Linked DNA regions of Homo sapiens: region 1 is linked to region 2. A link means that fine-mapping ties the variant in region 2 to the expression of a gene that starts in the linked region. Tissue or cell type: whole blood. Region 2 holds a variant in brackets; the other region holds the start of a gene. All regions are shown on one strand. Distances are from middle to middle.

Region 1 (8,175 bases), 53 kb after region 2:
CCTCTTTACCACAGATAGTAACACATCATTTATAAAATGGCTGGTGGGATGAATGATGCAATCTATGGTCAAAGAGCACCTGCCCAGGAGAGACTCAAACCATGGGCCTTGTATGACCAGTACCATGCTCCTAACCAATAACCCAAGGCTCTATTCATGAAATACTCAATACTCCTTCAACTCACCTCTCAAACTGTGTCCCTGGTAAACATTTATTCGTGCACGTACTCATGAATTTAACAAATGTACACTTATTAACCATATGTATTATGCATATGTAAGACACAGGCTACTGCAGTCTACACCTACAGGACCTTATAATACAGCAGAGTAGCTAGCAGCCACTTACCCCTAAACTCCAAACAACCCACTATTCAAATGTTAAATTATATATTCATTTAATATTGACTTACGAGTGAAGTTTAATAAGCTGTAAGTACCATATTTCATCAAATATAAAACACCATTGATTTTTAAGAAGTACTATTAATTACTGGTAAAAAAGAAAAAATGAGGCGGGCGGATCACCTGAGGTCAGGAGTTTGAGACCAGCCTGACCAACATGGAGAAACCCCGTCTCTACTAAAAATACAAAATTAGCCGGACATGGTGGCACATGCCTGTAATCCCAGCTAGTCGGGAGGCTGAGGCAGGAGAATGGCTTGAGCCCAGGAGGCAGAGGATGCGGTGAGCTGAGATTGTGCCATTGCACTCCAGCCTGAGCAATAAGAGCAAAACTCTGTCTCAAAAAAAACATATATATCAGTAATAAGACACAACCTAATGTAAGAAATGTTATAATGTAAAAAAATGTGGGTCTATCACGCCTGTAATCCCAGCACTTTGGGAGGCTGAGGTGGGCGGATCACAATGTCAGGAGATCGAGACCATCCTGGCTAACACAGTGAAACCCCATCTCTACTAAAAATACAAAAAAATTAGCCAGGTGTGGTGGCGGGTGCCTGTAGTCCCAGCTACTGGGGAGGCTGAGGCAGGAGAACGGCTTGAACCTGGGAGGCGGAGCTTGCAGTGAGCAGAGATCACGCCACTGCACTCCAGCCTGGGCGACAGAGCAAGACTCCGTCTCAAAACAAAAAAAAAAAAAAAAAATGTGGGTCTATGGTATGCCAGTCCCCTGATGAAATGAAATTGTTGCCCTGTACTTAAATTATTTTTAATATTCCCAATTACATTTCTATGGAGAAACAAATTTGATGTCAGAAAATCAAATCACTTTCTCATGGCTACACTGGTACATCTGAATCAAGGCTATTTTGTATTTCTGAAATAAAGATTTGGTTATTACATGCAATGGCAACAGATGCTAATATCCACAACATCACTGTTGAGGATCTCATTTTCCAAACTACACTTTAAATGCATCTCTGATTCGAAAAACAGGCCTACGCACTTGGCAAACACGGGGAAAAGGAAGGCAACACCTTTGAGCAGGATAGTCACCTTCTCAACACATCACTAAGACTGCCAAAAAAAAATCAGAGCTTCGAAAAAAGCTTAAGTTATCACATGGTACATGCTGGCGGAAAGGATACTGCAGAGTCAGAAGACCTGGGTGCTAGTATCACTTCTGATACTCACTGGAAACTTTTGGGATTTCCTCATCTGCCGTACAAAGGTATGGGACCAGTTGGGTTTTAAGGTTTACTTTCTGGCATTAAAATACCAAAATTCTGAGGTTCAAAAATACTGGCTTTTATTCCCTATTTATTCTAAAAGATTCAAGTTACAGAAACTACTGACCAGTTTTAAAAAGACCTTGCATTACTTTATGCTTCTCTTAAAACTTCACTATTTCAACTTCAAGGGTGCTTATGAAATCCTTAAACTTTCTCATGGAAGAACTCTTCCTCATTTTTCATTGTATTTTCTCTCTCCACTTCAACTGGATCCTTTTCCTTTTTTCTCTTTTTCTGAGACAGAGTCTCACTCTGTTGCCCAGGCTGGAGTACAGTGGCACGATCTCAGCTCACTGCAAGCTCCACCTCCCGGGTTCAAGCAATTCTCCTGCCTTAGCCTCCTGAGTAGCTGGGATTACAGGCGCCTGCCACCACACCTGGCTAATTTTTGTATTTTTAGTAGAGACGGGGTTTCACCATCTTGGCCAGGCTGGTCTTGAACTCCTGACCTTGTGATCTACCCGCCTCAGCCTCCCAAAGTGCTGGGATTACAGGCATGAGCCACCGTGCCAGGCCACTTTTCCTTTTTTCATAAGCTATAAAACAGGGCTCCGGAAGGCATCTACCAGTGTTCACTTGAGTTTTTTCTGTGGCTGTTAACTCTAATCAATATTGCAACACTATGACCTTCAGCAAGTAATGTACCATAAGTTGAAACTTAACAGAGGGAACAAAATTCCCTAACATCTGTAGCTCTATTAGCTTCACAGACTAAATAATTTCTGGTCCCTTTTTAAAAAAAAAGTTTGCAAGGTGATGTTGTAGCTGCTATTTTTCTAGTGGGAGTGAAAATGGGCTCGGAAATGTGGCATGGGAAAGAGGAGTTAGAGTTTTGTGAATTTAGAGGTGTTTACACATTAAGCATTGTTGTCTGTAACCCCTCTTAATATAGAATACATCTTGGTTTAAATCTCAGACCCGTAATAACAAGTTAATCACATGACTTGAATAATTCAAGCCCACTCCAGTAACAAAACTAAACCAGATGGTCACTCTAGGGCCAAATGATCCTGGGAGTCTAGGAAGAACACACTTCCAGTTCTGTGGGAAGAGGATTGAGAGGACTGCTAAGGGTGGAGTAAGGAACTAGATCTTTTAGACACTCTTCCTTTATTCTCTAGATTTTTCTAGACAGCAGACCTACCTGAGGCTAGGATCTTTCAGAACCTCAGACTAGCAAGACCACAGAAGCGAAAGACACAGGTGGGCAACTTCTTCCTAGGGTTTCCCACCACAGTGGCTGTGCTGCACATCTGATCTTCTACATTCTAACCCACTATCTATTCAAATTAAGCTGGTTTAAAACCATATCCAATATACTTCATTCTTGGTGCTCAAACTTTATTGACCTGAGTGATTACTGGGTATAATGAATTCTTTTTGTCCTTCTGCCTACAACACTCTCAAGAATCTCCAGAAAGCTTTACCAAACAAACCATTTCATACTTGCTAACGTTATCTAGCCAGACCTTTGTCCTCAAGTGATTGGCAACTAAGTGTTAGCTATTGAGTGCACACTCATCAATGTACACTTTCAGAATGTAATCTTCTCAAGAAAGGAATTAAGTCTCATAAAATATTCAGTACAAGCAGAATTAAGAGCAAAGCGGAAAAAGAAAACTAACTTTGAGTGTTTGTTACATACGAGATGCTTTATATAAATTGCTCCACTTATTCTGCAGTGAACCCAGATCATCCTGTACATCATCATTGCTAAAATGCACATTTTTTTTCACTTTTTAAAAAACCAGGATACATGTGACAACCACTGGTGTGTCACAGTTTTAATAAGCAATCGTTCTTCATTGTTAGTGGTAAACAAAATAATGGTCCACCTTACAAGTGATGGTGCTTCAGGCCCCTTAAAATGTGTTAATATTTTCATGTGATTGGAAACACTGAAAAACAGATTAAGTGTCCAGGGTTATTACACAGACTGAAAAGGGACTAGCCAGACTTCAAACCCTGATGTGGCTGATTCCAAAGTTTCTTTCTACTATAACCTACCTGACAAGCACAGAGACTTTGAATATGGCAAGAATTTTCCATAGTCAGCGTGTCTCAAAGACTAGCAACCTTGGGTACTAAGTTTTCGGGAACGGATGTGTCCACAAATCGCCTGGTGGAGACACTGCAAATAAGCTGGTTTAGGTCCCAGCCAACCATAAGCTTCTAGTAGTCTATGCGGCTATGCCGACCCCACTCCGTGTGCAGAAACCATCTTTCCCTGACATACAATCCTGCAGAGGGGGAATTCGAAGTGCAGGACCTTTCCGTACTAGGGACAGCCTCATCCCCCAACTTCCTACTGAGACACTCTTCCTCTACCTCTCAACCCAGACCCTTACCTTCCCCACCAAGTTCACCTTGGACCTCTTCATCCCCAACTCCAAATAAGGCCAGTCTAGACGCCACCCCCATCCTGTCATTTGTCACCGCGGGGCCGAGAGCAAGCTCCCAAATTTGCAGGGCTCCCGGACCCGAATCCTGGCTCAGCCACCCAATATCTCCATCTGCCAGCGGCCTAAGTCATGCCCCCCGCCCCACGTATCCAGCAAAGCTCCTTCCACCGTAGGGGTCCCCGACTCGAAGCCGGAATCCCAAGCGGCTCCCAGGCCCCCGCCGAGGTCCAGCCCTGAGGGCCCAGCCGCGGCCTGGGCCAGGAGGTTGGGTCCGGCGGGGCCAATAACCCGCGGGCGCCAGGAAGACAGTACTGGCTGGACTCACGGAGGAAGCTGCGCGACAGGAGACGGGCGGCGGCGAGGCCGCTGCTGCCGGAGACCATGGTAGCGATGTCAGCGGCAGCGGCAAGGGTTGCGGTCATACGCCAATGACACTCCCAGGCCCCCGGGGACCTCCCAGGGGCAGAGGCCGGAGGAGGCAGAGGGTGGCCACAGCAGTCGCCTGAACAAATTTCCCTTTACAGAGGATTCTTCACGAAACAGCGGGAATGGCAGGTGAAGACAAAGAGGCATCCTATCGGAGAGGCAGATAATAACTCGGCTCCTTCCTAGAAATGTGGGTTTGATTAACATTAATTATAACAGCAGCTGAGGGAAAACCCCACGCGAGACTGGCCAGCGCGTGGCATTGTGGGCAATGTAGTCTGACGGCCGCGACTGGTTCGTAGCTTTTGAGTGAGGCGGCGGGAAGGGAGCGAGGGAAGAGCGGCAGTGAGACCGGGGAGACAAGGGACTTGAAGACTAGGAGGGAAGAAACAGCGAGGTGAGGTGCGAAGAGCAGTGCCAGAACTTTGTATCCCAGGCCCATCTCCTTCCCCCTTCGTTTTCCTCGTTTGCTATTAGAGAGAATAATATTTCTCACCGCGTACCTGTGCCTGGACCCGGAAGGGTTGCCGCTGGGGACGGGAATTCGAACTGGCACTGGTGGCCTGTGAAGGGAAAGATGTGATGAGAAAGACCAAAACCTATCTTACTGACAGTTAACTTCTTGGAATGTGAATTTTTTTAGTTAAATAATCATGCAGTCTTTGACTAGCACTAAGTGCATGAGTGTTTATTCCCTGAGGATCCTAAGGGCTGAAATTCGAGGTCAAATGTGACTTTGCTCCCTGATTGGACAAACAGTTCCCTCTTCTGTAACAGCTTTAGAAGGAACCTCAGAGAGTCCCAGAGTCAAAAGGTAAACAAGAGATGAAGTAATCTGCGTCTCTGCCGAAAATCGTGCTCCTGAGATTCCTCATCAGAATTGTCAATAAAATTGCAATCCTAATTTACTTAGGTAGTCATTATAATTGGCACTGAGCTGTGGGATGGATGAGTGGGATTACCCCAGGAGATTGCCCAATACTTCCTTTATGATCCAAATATTGTCATTAACAGGTTGGACTTCACTGCAAATAAACTCCTCCCTCATGGATCATGTTCTTGTGATAACTAAATTCCTCAGAGTTAAATAGTATCAGTGGTTTCCAGATATATCCATTATAACAAAATGGACATTTTTATGGCAAATAAATAGAAAATCCCTTGCTATTTTAAATAGCAAAATTATTCCTGAGCTGTCGCTTGATAAGTTATATGTTTAGTTTCATTTAATTGATAAAATGCATGATGACAAAAAATATAATTTCAGTACACTTTTAATGAAAATTTGTATTTCCATGAAGACGGGGATTTTTGTTTGTTTTGTATCCTGGAGTATCCCCAGCACCTAGAACAATGCCTTACACAAATAACTCATCGTTGAATTGAATTGATATATATAGGAGAAATAGTAGTATATAGATTATTTTTTGGATCCACAGGCAATGTTTGATGGACTTAGGATATTTCAACCTCTTGTAATAACTGCACCCCTGTGGCAGACCAGGTCTCACTAACGCAGGCCTCCATAACAATGTTTCAGTGCTGACTGAGTGGTTAAGTTAAATATTAAAAGCCAGTGCCCTTATACAAAGGCTGAGATGTAACAGAAACCCACCAAGGGTTTTGCCTAGGCCTTTCCTGGGCCTTGAAGCATGACAAATTAATGAAGAAATTCTTAACAGGACCCATTTAGGATTAAACAAGTTTTATTGGAGGTCCGAAGAAACTCCCCAGGCCTCCACAAACAAGTTTATTGGAGGTCTGAAAGAACTCTCCAAACCTCTGTGATTTAGCAGGGGATAAGATAAGGGTAATCACCCCAGCACCTAAACCCATGTAGATTAAGTAAATTTATTGAGGCTTCAGAGGATGGTCTTCAGTACTCAGACCTTAGTTATAGATTAAAAGAAGTTAATCACTTATGTCTTTAGATAAATGCACACTTACAAGTAAACATATAGCTTAGAAGGTATATAAGCTCTGGAAAACTGTAATTTTAAGTTGGTCTGATGATAATTTCCAGGCCTTCTCCCTGTAATCGGTTGCAGAAATAAAAACTCTCTTCCTCCCCAGTTCATCTACATCTCATTATTGGGCCACAAAAAATAGCAGCCCAACCCTCAGTTTGGTCCGGGAACACCCCTACCTCAATTCTGTAGCTCATAGGTAGGGGACAACCACACTAGTCAATACCACACCACTCATCTTTGTATGCAGATTGAGTTTGGAAATCAGACAGGTCTGGGTTCAAATTCCAACTCTGCCACTGGCTACATGACCTCTGGGTTTCAGGTTTTATTACTGAGATGGGTATGAAACTCCCTATTTCATAAGAGTGTTGTGAACATTTAATACATTTAGTATATAAAGCTACTGTCACCTTGTACCAAATAGTCGATAATGGTAGTTATTATCATTAAAGAACTGTCTTTTTTACATGGCAGGATCATGTTTTAAAGGTTTTAACTAAAGTGAGTAACCAAATTAGAATAGGATATTTCTATTTGTCTCAAAACTTTGTCTAAAGCTCTAAAGCTGAAGACAACAAGCCTTACCTCCACATCCATAAGGAGGGCAGTCTAGGAGCTACTTCTCTCTGAAGTTTGATAGGAAGTGGCCAAACTTGTCTTTGAATTCTCACCCCCACATCCCAGCCGGCTCAGATAAGCAAAAGACTAGAATTCACTGTATGAGGGTGTGAAAGGAAAATAAATCTCGGGACCCCAAAGTCATCAAGCCAAGAGAAAAGTCCAGCTGGGAACTGCCTGAGGCAAACCTACCTCCCATTTTATTCCTAAATAATATAGCTACAAAGATAATAAGCTACATACCTCCCTCACAATTTGCCCACAGGAAATTCCTGGTGGATAAAGGACAGGCAGAACTCAGTCATCACTCTGAGGCTCACCTGAGACAGATGCATATCTGATTGCTCCCTCTGCCCTATTGTTTATGTAAAAATGCAGATTCACTGAGCCAGACTAAATTGTGTATTCAGTGGAAGGCTGATCAAGGACTCAAAAGAATGCAACCTTTTGTCTCTTATCTACTTCTAACCAGGAAGTCCCTGCCTTACTGGATGGACCAATGTACATCTTACAAATATTGATTGATATGTCATGCCTTCCTAAAATGTATAAAAGCAAGCTGTACCCCCAACCACCTTGGGCACCTGTCATCCAGACTTCCTGAGTCACGAGTGCATCCTTAACCTTGGCAAAATAAATTTTCTAAATTGACTGAGACCTGTCTCAGATATTTTGGATTAACAAGGGGACTGATGCTTCTGAGTCTACAGTTGGCAGTTTAATGTTCTTGTTTCCTTCCACTCCCAGCCAAGTTTGTGGGTGAGGGCTTCTTACCAAAACATTACTGGTATTAAATCTCAGGATAAATCCCTATAGAACTGCAGAAATTCATGAGTCCACCTTAGTTAGCTAGATAGGTCTTGGTCAGAGAATGCTTGAGGAAACCTGAATTTGGAAGGCAGGCCTAACTGTTAAGGCTATGTCTGCCTCCTTCCTAGAGAATTGCAATGGCAGGAAGCTAGCTGGAGCAGTCCTCATCAGCAGGCAGGGCAATATTTGGTGTATCAAGATGTGTTAATATTCCTGTGAGTAAAATGCATACCAAGAAAGAAAGTTGAACCT
Region 2 (8,210 bases):
ATGGTCATATGCAGAAAGCTGAAACTGGATCCCTTCCTTACATCTTATACCAAAATTAACTAAAGATGGATTAAAGACTTAAACAGAAGACCTAAAACCATAAAATCCCCAGAAGAAAACCTAGGCAATACCATTCAGGACATAGGCATTGGCAAAGACTTCATGACTAAAACACCAAAAGCAATGGCAACAAAAGCCAAATTGACAAATGGGATCTAATTAAACTAAAGAGCTTCTGCACAGCAAAAGAAACTATCAGAGTGAACAGGCAACCTACAGAATGAGAGAAAAATTTTGCAATCTATCCATCTGACAAAGGGCTAATATCCGGAATCTACAAGGATCTAAACAAATTTACAAGAAAAAAAACAACCCCATCAAAAAGTGAGCAAAGGATATAAACAGACACTTCTCAAAAGAAGACATTTATGCAGCCAACAGACATATGAAAAAAGCTCATCATCACTGTTCATCAGAAAAATGCAAATCAAAGCCACAATGTGATACTATCTCATGCCAGTTAGAATGGCGATGATTAAAGTCAGGAAACAACATATGCTGGAGAGGATGTGGAGAAATAGGAACGCTTTTACACTGTTGGTGGGAGTGTTAATTAGTTCAACCATTCTGGAAGACAGTGTGGCAATTCCTCAAGGATCTAGAACCAGAAATACCATTTGACCCAGCAATCCCATTACTGGGTATATACTCAAAGGATTATATATCATTCTACTATGAAGACACATACACACTTATGTTTATTGCGGCACTGTTCACAGTAGCAAAGACTTGGAACCAACCCAAATGCCCATCAATGATAGACTAGATAAAGAAAATGCGGCACATATACACCATGGAATACTATCCAGCCATAAAAAAGGATGAGTTTTTGTCCTTTGCAGGGACATGGATGACGCTAGAAACCATCATTCTCAGCAAACTAACACAAGAACAGAAAACCAAATACTGCATGTTCTCACTCATAAGTGGGAGATGAACAATGAGAACACACGGACACAGGGAGGGGAACATCACTCACCAGGACCTGTCGGAGGTGGGGACTAGGGGAGGGATAGCATTAGGAGAAATACCTAATGTAGATGACAGGTTGATGAATGCAGCAAACCACCATGGCATGTGTATACCTATGTAACAAACCTGCACGTTCTGCACCAGAACTTAAAGTATAATTTTTAAAAAAGAGTTTGAATATTTTCTCATTAATTATGCCAAAGAATGAGATTATGTGCAAATATGAATACATAAAACACATTAGCACTTTATTACTGTATTACCAGTAGTTTAAATAAAATGTTCATTTTTATTAATGACAAGAACCACTGTAATGGTACAGTTTATCATGAGTACATCTGGTAAAAATATAATTGTGTTTCTCCATAGATTTCTTCACTGGTGGTCAAAGCAGGGTTCATTAGGCTTTGGTAAATAATGTGTAACTGGCTCTGTCCCTCAGATTTCTGTGATGGAAACCTCAAGGAAGGTCCTACTCTACTATAATAATCCCCAACTATTTGGAGACAATTCATCAGGGGTGTTTCTGCTGTGATTAATAAAAATAATCTGATACATAATTATTTTTCACCTCCTCTGCACTCACTCTCAATCTGGTTCTTTGAGGTCCAAGGCAAAGCACTGTGTCATGGTGCATCCCCATCTCCAGCTGACACCCAGCAATGTAGTGTACAGAGGGACCCAAAACACCTGTTGTGTGATGGTCCCACAGGAGGGAAAGACCAGTGACAGTGTCTGTACTATGTCACAGCCACACTGGGGGTGGCCGACTGGACCACATGCAGGCACCCAAGCCAAACCTGTCCAATTAGAGGACTGCTTCTGTGTTTTCTACACTGGAGGTGGAGGAGCAGGGAGCTGTGAGGAATGAACACTGAGAACTTGTGTCTCTCATTGATTTAGACCTTGGCACATGGGTAGGGACTCTCACTGAATTAAAGAAAGAATGAATAAATTGAGGCACTGTCGTTGGCACATCTTGTCAGCCTAAAGTTGTCTCCCCTCAAGGTGAGGGTCTACAGGACTCTCATTTTATCATTCCACAGGTGACACCTACTCTATTAACCATTAATATATTTACATACACAGTCAAATCTATATAAGCATGGTTTAGGTTTCAACTGGGATCCCATTACCTGACAAAATACACCCCAAAATGAAACAGGGTATTGTGTAAGGAAGTGAGTTCCTCAACTCTCAGAATATTTAGGCAGAGGCTGGAAGACCATCTGTCCCTTCCTTAGGAGGGAGGCTGGGTGAAATGACTCCTAAAGACATTTCCATCTCTAATGTTTTATTTTTCTAGTGACAGCAGAGTAATAAGTGTCATATTTCTAGGTCTTCTAGACCTCAACTTAGCTGAGAATCAGGGCTTCCTTTTGGCAATACCAATTCTAGATACGTTTGCTCTGAAAAACCAATCGTAGTCTTCAATTCTAAGACACAAATTTTTTGTACTAATATCTCTAAACTAGTGATGTGTCTTCTAACCAGTGACTTGTCATTGTTAAATTTCCAGCACTTCGCTTTTTATTCCTTAGTGGCATATAAATGATAGCATGCCTAACAATTGATGATGTCTTAGATTCAATTGAATATGTTAGGTCTTTCACAGGTTCCTCTGATGCAAGCATAGTCAATGTGTTCTGTTGCTTTTCTTGTGATTCTCGAATATGTATATATAATCTACTCTTTTAGCTATATACACACACAGGTTTTGCAGGCAAGCCTGCTGGATACTCCAAGTTCTCAGATTAAAATTTTACCCATCTTGAAAAAAGAAAAATTTTTTTACCCATCTTGTTAACAAAGACTCTTCTACTTCTTAAGTAGTAAGGGACCCAAGTCCCATCTAACTCTCTCCTTGAAATTTCTTCTTCACCAGAGAGAAACTAAAATCCAGAGAGACATTCCAAACAATGTGAATCATTAAGCAAGCCACCAATTCCAGACCTTGAGAATTTCTAAACTGCCTAGGACTGGGGGCTTCCTAACCTGAATCTGTGAGCTGTAGGATATTCTGATTTTGAAATGGAGGGTAAATTTCATAAGAAGAAATGCTTGAAAAACAAAATGCCACATCTCTTACTCCCTGTTCATTTATATTCCTTCCTGGATTCCTATGGCAGATATGCCCTAAGGTGCCCCTGGCGAGTCCCACCCTTCTACAATCCCCTCGAGTTGGGGCAGAATCTGTGCCTTGCTTCTCACCAATAAAATACTGCCAAGGTGACAGGATGTCACTTTAATTATGTTACACTATATAAGACCATCTTAGCCTACTAGAATACGCAAACAGCCATGTGTGACTTGCCTGTGGCAGGACCATGTGGCAGAGAATAGCCTCCACTCAACAACAGGTTAAGAAGCTGAGGCCTTCAGTCACACTGCAAGGAAATGAATCCTGCCAACAATCTGAGTGAGCTCAGAAGTGGATATTTTCTCAGATGAGCCTCCAGATGAGAACACAGTCTGGGGAGACCCTGGCAGAGGGACTAGTCAAGCAGTGCCCAGATTCCTGACCCATGCAAACTGTGAGATAATATGTGTTGTTTTAAGTGGCTACATTTGTGGTAATTTGTTATTGCCGTAGTAGAAAACTAACACAATCTCCCTTCTGCTCCTTTACCTCCTTCTTTCCTTTTTGTCATTGTGTCTGCAAACATTCATTCATCCACTAAATTTATATATATATTTAGAATCTACACTGTTTAAACAGAGGACAAAACGGACCAGGCTTCAAGGATACAATAAGGATTAAAACAAAGTATTTGCCTTCTTGGAATTTACATTCTGATGGAGGAAGACAGACAATAGACACATAAGCAACGATTTTTGATGATAGTGGTAGTTTGAGAAATAAAAATAACAGCGGAATGTGGTTTAATCCCCTCTTATGATTTGCTTTTAATTTTTATTCCCCTTTCCTGTCTCTTTTTCAGTATGGATGACAACTCATTGGATAAAATAAAACTCATGCTATCAACATAGTATATGACCCAATAATTATTCATTTACACACAAAGATGAACAAGTAGTTGAAGGATAAATTATCGTGAGAAGAAAATGTTCCAGGGAGGCTGGAAACATAGAAATGAACAAGAGCTGGTACCAGGACTGTTTTTAAATAAGAAGGTTTTTAATTACATACTTCAACCAGCCCTCTTCTGGCTTTGCTTTTCTGCATAAAGATTTATACCAGCACATTCTGCACATGCAGACAACTTGCACAATCCCCACCAAGAATAACTAACTCTTCTCTCCTCCTCACCTCTTTCTCTCTGTCTTTTAACCAGTTGTATGCAGCATTAAGGAATCTGGGAACCATGTTACAGAAGGATCAGGTGGAGGAATTTGAGTTTTTAGCTAAGCAGAAAGCTAAACCAATGTGCTAACAGGGAATTTAAATCAATGGGCTCAAGTTACAAATAGGTTTCAGACAAGTCTAATTTCTTTAATAGTTGGAATTTGTTCAAAATGGAATGAGTTCCCTAAAAAACTTATCCCTGGTGGGATTCAAGCAGAACCTATCCACCTTCCTCTTATGGTTGTGAGAAGCTATTTCTCTATGGGCTAGAAAATAGGTCCTTTAAGGCCCTTAAAGGACTTTAATCATGTAATCTGAGCTGGAATGTTAAAAGCTAGTGATGAATTAATTTGTTATCCCTCTGTATCTGGGTTCAGTTGCAGAAGACAGAATCTTCTCTAGCTACTTGAGACAGAAAAAAAAATTATTCTGTGTAATTAGGTGGCTGGCAGAAATGCCAAAAGAGCAGGCTCAAGGTTGAGATTTCAAGAACAACTTTTAAAACTACCCATCAGAACTTACCCTCCGAGAGAGCATCTGCCACGTCAGAAAGCAAGCCAAGGGATCAGGGAGCCGCACCACAAATGCTTGTTCCAGTACCACACTGCCTCTGCCATAATTGGCAGCAGCAGAATGGAAGCACCTCCCTCCCTGTGTCCATGCCACCTTCCCTATCCCATGGACATGTGTCTGCCTGGTGAAAGAGGGTATTTGCAGAGCCCAAGATATAAGAAACATAGGCTTCTGGTACAAGGGC[G/C]ACTCAGTAGGATTGAGAGATACAGGGTTCTCCAAATCCTCCCAAATGTGGTAATTCCCAATTTTAGATTCCTACTCCTTCTCATAAATGCTCAACTTTCACAGGTGATCTGGTGAGGCTGTGAGCTCCACCTGTGTTGTAATTAATATACCCCCCTCCCCCAACACACACACAACAGACACTGCAGATGATTTTGATTATATAAACTCTGCATCAACAAGGGATAAGAGATTATTTTAGGGCAGAAGAAACTCACTAGTTCTCTAAGCCTCAAAATAAAAAATTTGAAATGCCAAGTCTTTTTAAGTTTTCAAATGCTGTTGTAAGTAGCCAGCACATCCCCATGGTCCACGTATTGCTATTGCAACTATATTGTCACTCAGTCCATGAGAGCCATGAGTCCAATTGGCACTTTTTCCAGATTACCCTGGAACTTATGTAACAAAGTTTTGTTTCTCCTGGTCATGATCTACCAGTAGCCCCTCCTGTACCGGTTACTGGAACCCAGGGGCCTTCAAACCCAACTAACCCATGGAATCCCCCCGTTTCCCATCCCTGAATGTTTGTTACCTACAATCACTTCTAGCAGCGATTACTCCAGGTTCAGGGCACACAGCAGAATTCATTCTGGCAAGTTTTAGTATAAAGGAACTTAGAATTTATTATTAGGTGACTTATTTAAAAAAACTAGCATAATTGAGCTGAGCTCCCAGGAATGACTCTCAGAACAATGCAGAACTTGCCCACCTAGACAACTGCTGCCTATGCTGTGATCAGGAAACTGGGATCAAGAAGCCACCAATTAGCACCAAAATTGCCTACTTCTGGTGTTATCAGAAATTAGGTATTAATATTTGCTTCTCAATACCCACAAAGCTGAAACCAGACACTAGGCCCTCTGCTACAAGATGCTATAGAATTTTTTAAAGCACCTCCACAACTATATTTGCCTCACAGTGTTCACTTCCTTCTTCTAATCTTGCATGAGCGTATCAGCTAGGAGAAAGCTGGGTCATTTGTAAAACCAAAACACAAGGGAGTCTAAGAAATGCAGCATTATGTTCAGATTTGCAGCCCCTACCTTTCAGTTAGACACGATATCTGAGTCTCATCCTCAAAGAATCAGCAGCCCGGACATCAGGAGTTTTAAAAGCTTCTCAGGTGACTTAATGTTCAACCAGGTGAAAATCATTGACTCATCAGAGCCCTACTCAGCCACACATAGGCTGTCCTGGGCCAGAGACTTAAAACTAAAGTCATCACAAAGACTCCAAACATCTGTGTGATCAAGAAACTCATGGGAAGTGATCAAGAAACTCATGGGAAGTTTGTTTAGTGAAGACAACCCTATATGCAACACACTTGCCTTCTATCTGGCGAAATTAAGGTATACCTTCTAGTTAGAAGGATTTGCCTAACTTTATAAAACAGACTGGTTGGATTCACATTATGCCAATGTGTAGGAATGCTTCATCTAAACAAGGGATGTCCAATCTTTAAAGGCTTCCCTGGGCCACATTGGAAGAAGAAGAATTGTCCTGGGCCAGAAGGATAGCTGATGAGCTTTAAAAAATCACACACACAAAAAAAAAACCTCATAATGTTTTTAAAAAATTTACAAATTTGTGTTGGGCCGCATTCAAAGCCACCACAGGCTGCAAATTGGAGAAACTTGATCTAAACACTTTTTACATCCATTACAAAACAATTTTTAGGAAACAATTCAGTTCCACACATGTTATTAGGATATACTGCAGGGGTTGAGTATAGAAACACCAATAAAATTATTCCTACTGTCACAGACTCTACAACCTAGCCATGTAAAGTATTCAGAGAGCTTATATTTGCTTTTATTATTACCAACAGATACCATTTGTTGACTATTTGCTATGTACTCAGTACAATCATTTTACAAACATTCTTCATTTAATCCTCACAAGAAAATCTAGTGATATATATACGATTCTTTCCATTTGGCAAATAAAGATTTTGAGGCTCAGAGAGTTAAGTGACTTGCCCAGAATCACACATATGGTAAGTATTAATATTGAGAATCAAACCTAGGCCTTCTGATTGCAAATTGAACGACCACCTAGAATCCCAGTTTGAAAGGCCTAAGGCTAGATAAATGTCACTTTTACCTGGTGACAATTCCATTGTAAATATTCTGACTCCCCAAATAATCAAGTTCCAAATCACCTTGGCCCCACAGGCTGCAGACCTCATTTAATCCTGCCTGCTTTGCTGACTAGAGAGTATAGGGAATCAAAGGAGAAACCCCAGGCCCCACTTCTCTTTCAAAGTTTTGCAAGCCACAGGGACTTTGGGGGGTTATTCCTTCCACATTTGTGTATGACAAAAATGGATCATAGCCTGGAGCAAAGCTTCTGTGCTTGAGTTTGTAACAGAAAAATTAGACGAGTTTCAGCAGAGACTCTACAAAAGCATCTCCAGAAGATGCCACAGCCATGTTTGTTTCTCCAAGACAATAGTCTCATCCCTGGCTGCACATTAGAATCACCTGGGAGAATTCAAAACACCTAGTGGCAGACCCACCACCTAGATCATGCTGTAATCGCACTGGTGTGAGGCCCAGGTGTTGGAAGCTTCCCCAGCAGTCTCCTGTGCATAATCTGAGGATCACAGCTTCAGTGTATTAGGTGCTTCTTAGAACTGCCAACAAAATAAACGTGAATTTCTTGCTTCCTCACCAACAAGGACAGGGAAGAAGATACCAAGAATAGCAGGAGCTCATAGATTCTTTCCCTAGCTCAGCTACTAAAGTGGAAAATAAACCATGCATGCCAAAGTAGGTCCTAGACACTTTAGAGCAAATAGTTGGCAAAATCACAACATGTGTACTGCAATAGCACTGGGAGAGCATAAGAGGACTTTTTAAATTGTTACGTCTTTAAGCACTTATCTATGTCTGACACAAATGATAAAAAAACAAAAATAATAAGGTAAAAACATGCAAAATAAAAGCAAACTAAACCATAATGCAATGTGATTTCACTCAGTGCCATGGGAGTATCTGTTCATTTATTCATTAGATATTCAATATGCACATACTGTGTGCCAGGCAGAGTCCACCATGGCCAATGCGGGTGAACA

What was found. PIP is the estimated chance that this variant, and not a neighbour inherited with it, causes the effect.
Region 1: it holds the start of SUCLG1, and the variant in region 2 is fine-mapped to the expression of SUCLG1 in whole blood (TOPMed, PIP above 0.99).

The regions. Positions count from the first base shown.
Region 1 is chr2:84,454,749-84,462,923 of GRCh38, forward strand. It overlaps SUCLG1 (succinate-CoA ligase GDP/ADP-forming subunit alpha), which reads right to left and starts at 4,532. Exons shown (of 9, transcript NM_003849.4): 1 at 4,425-4,532. The coding sequence starts at 4,521. It also overlaps a transcript of DNAH6 not described here. RefSeq lists an enhancer at 4,569-4,708 and a silencer at 4,889-5,078.
Region 2 is chr2:84,401,806-84,410,015 of GRCh38, forward strand. No RefSeq gene overlaps it. Among named protein-coding and RNA genes, the nearest start is that of SUCLG1, 53 kb to the right of the region's middle. The variant G/C (reference allele first, on the strand shown) is at 5,097.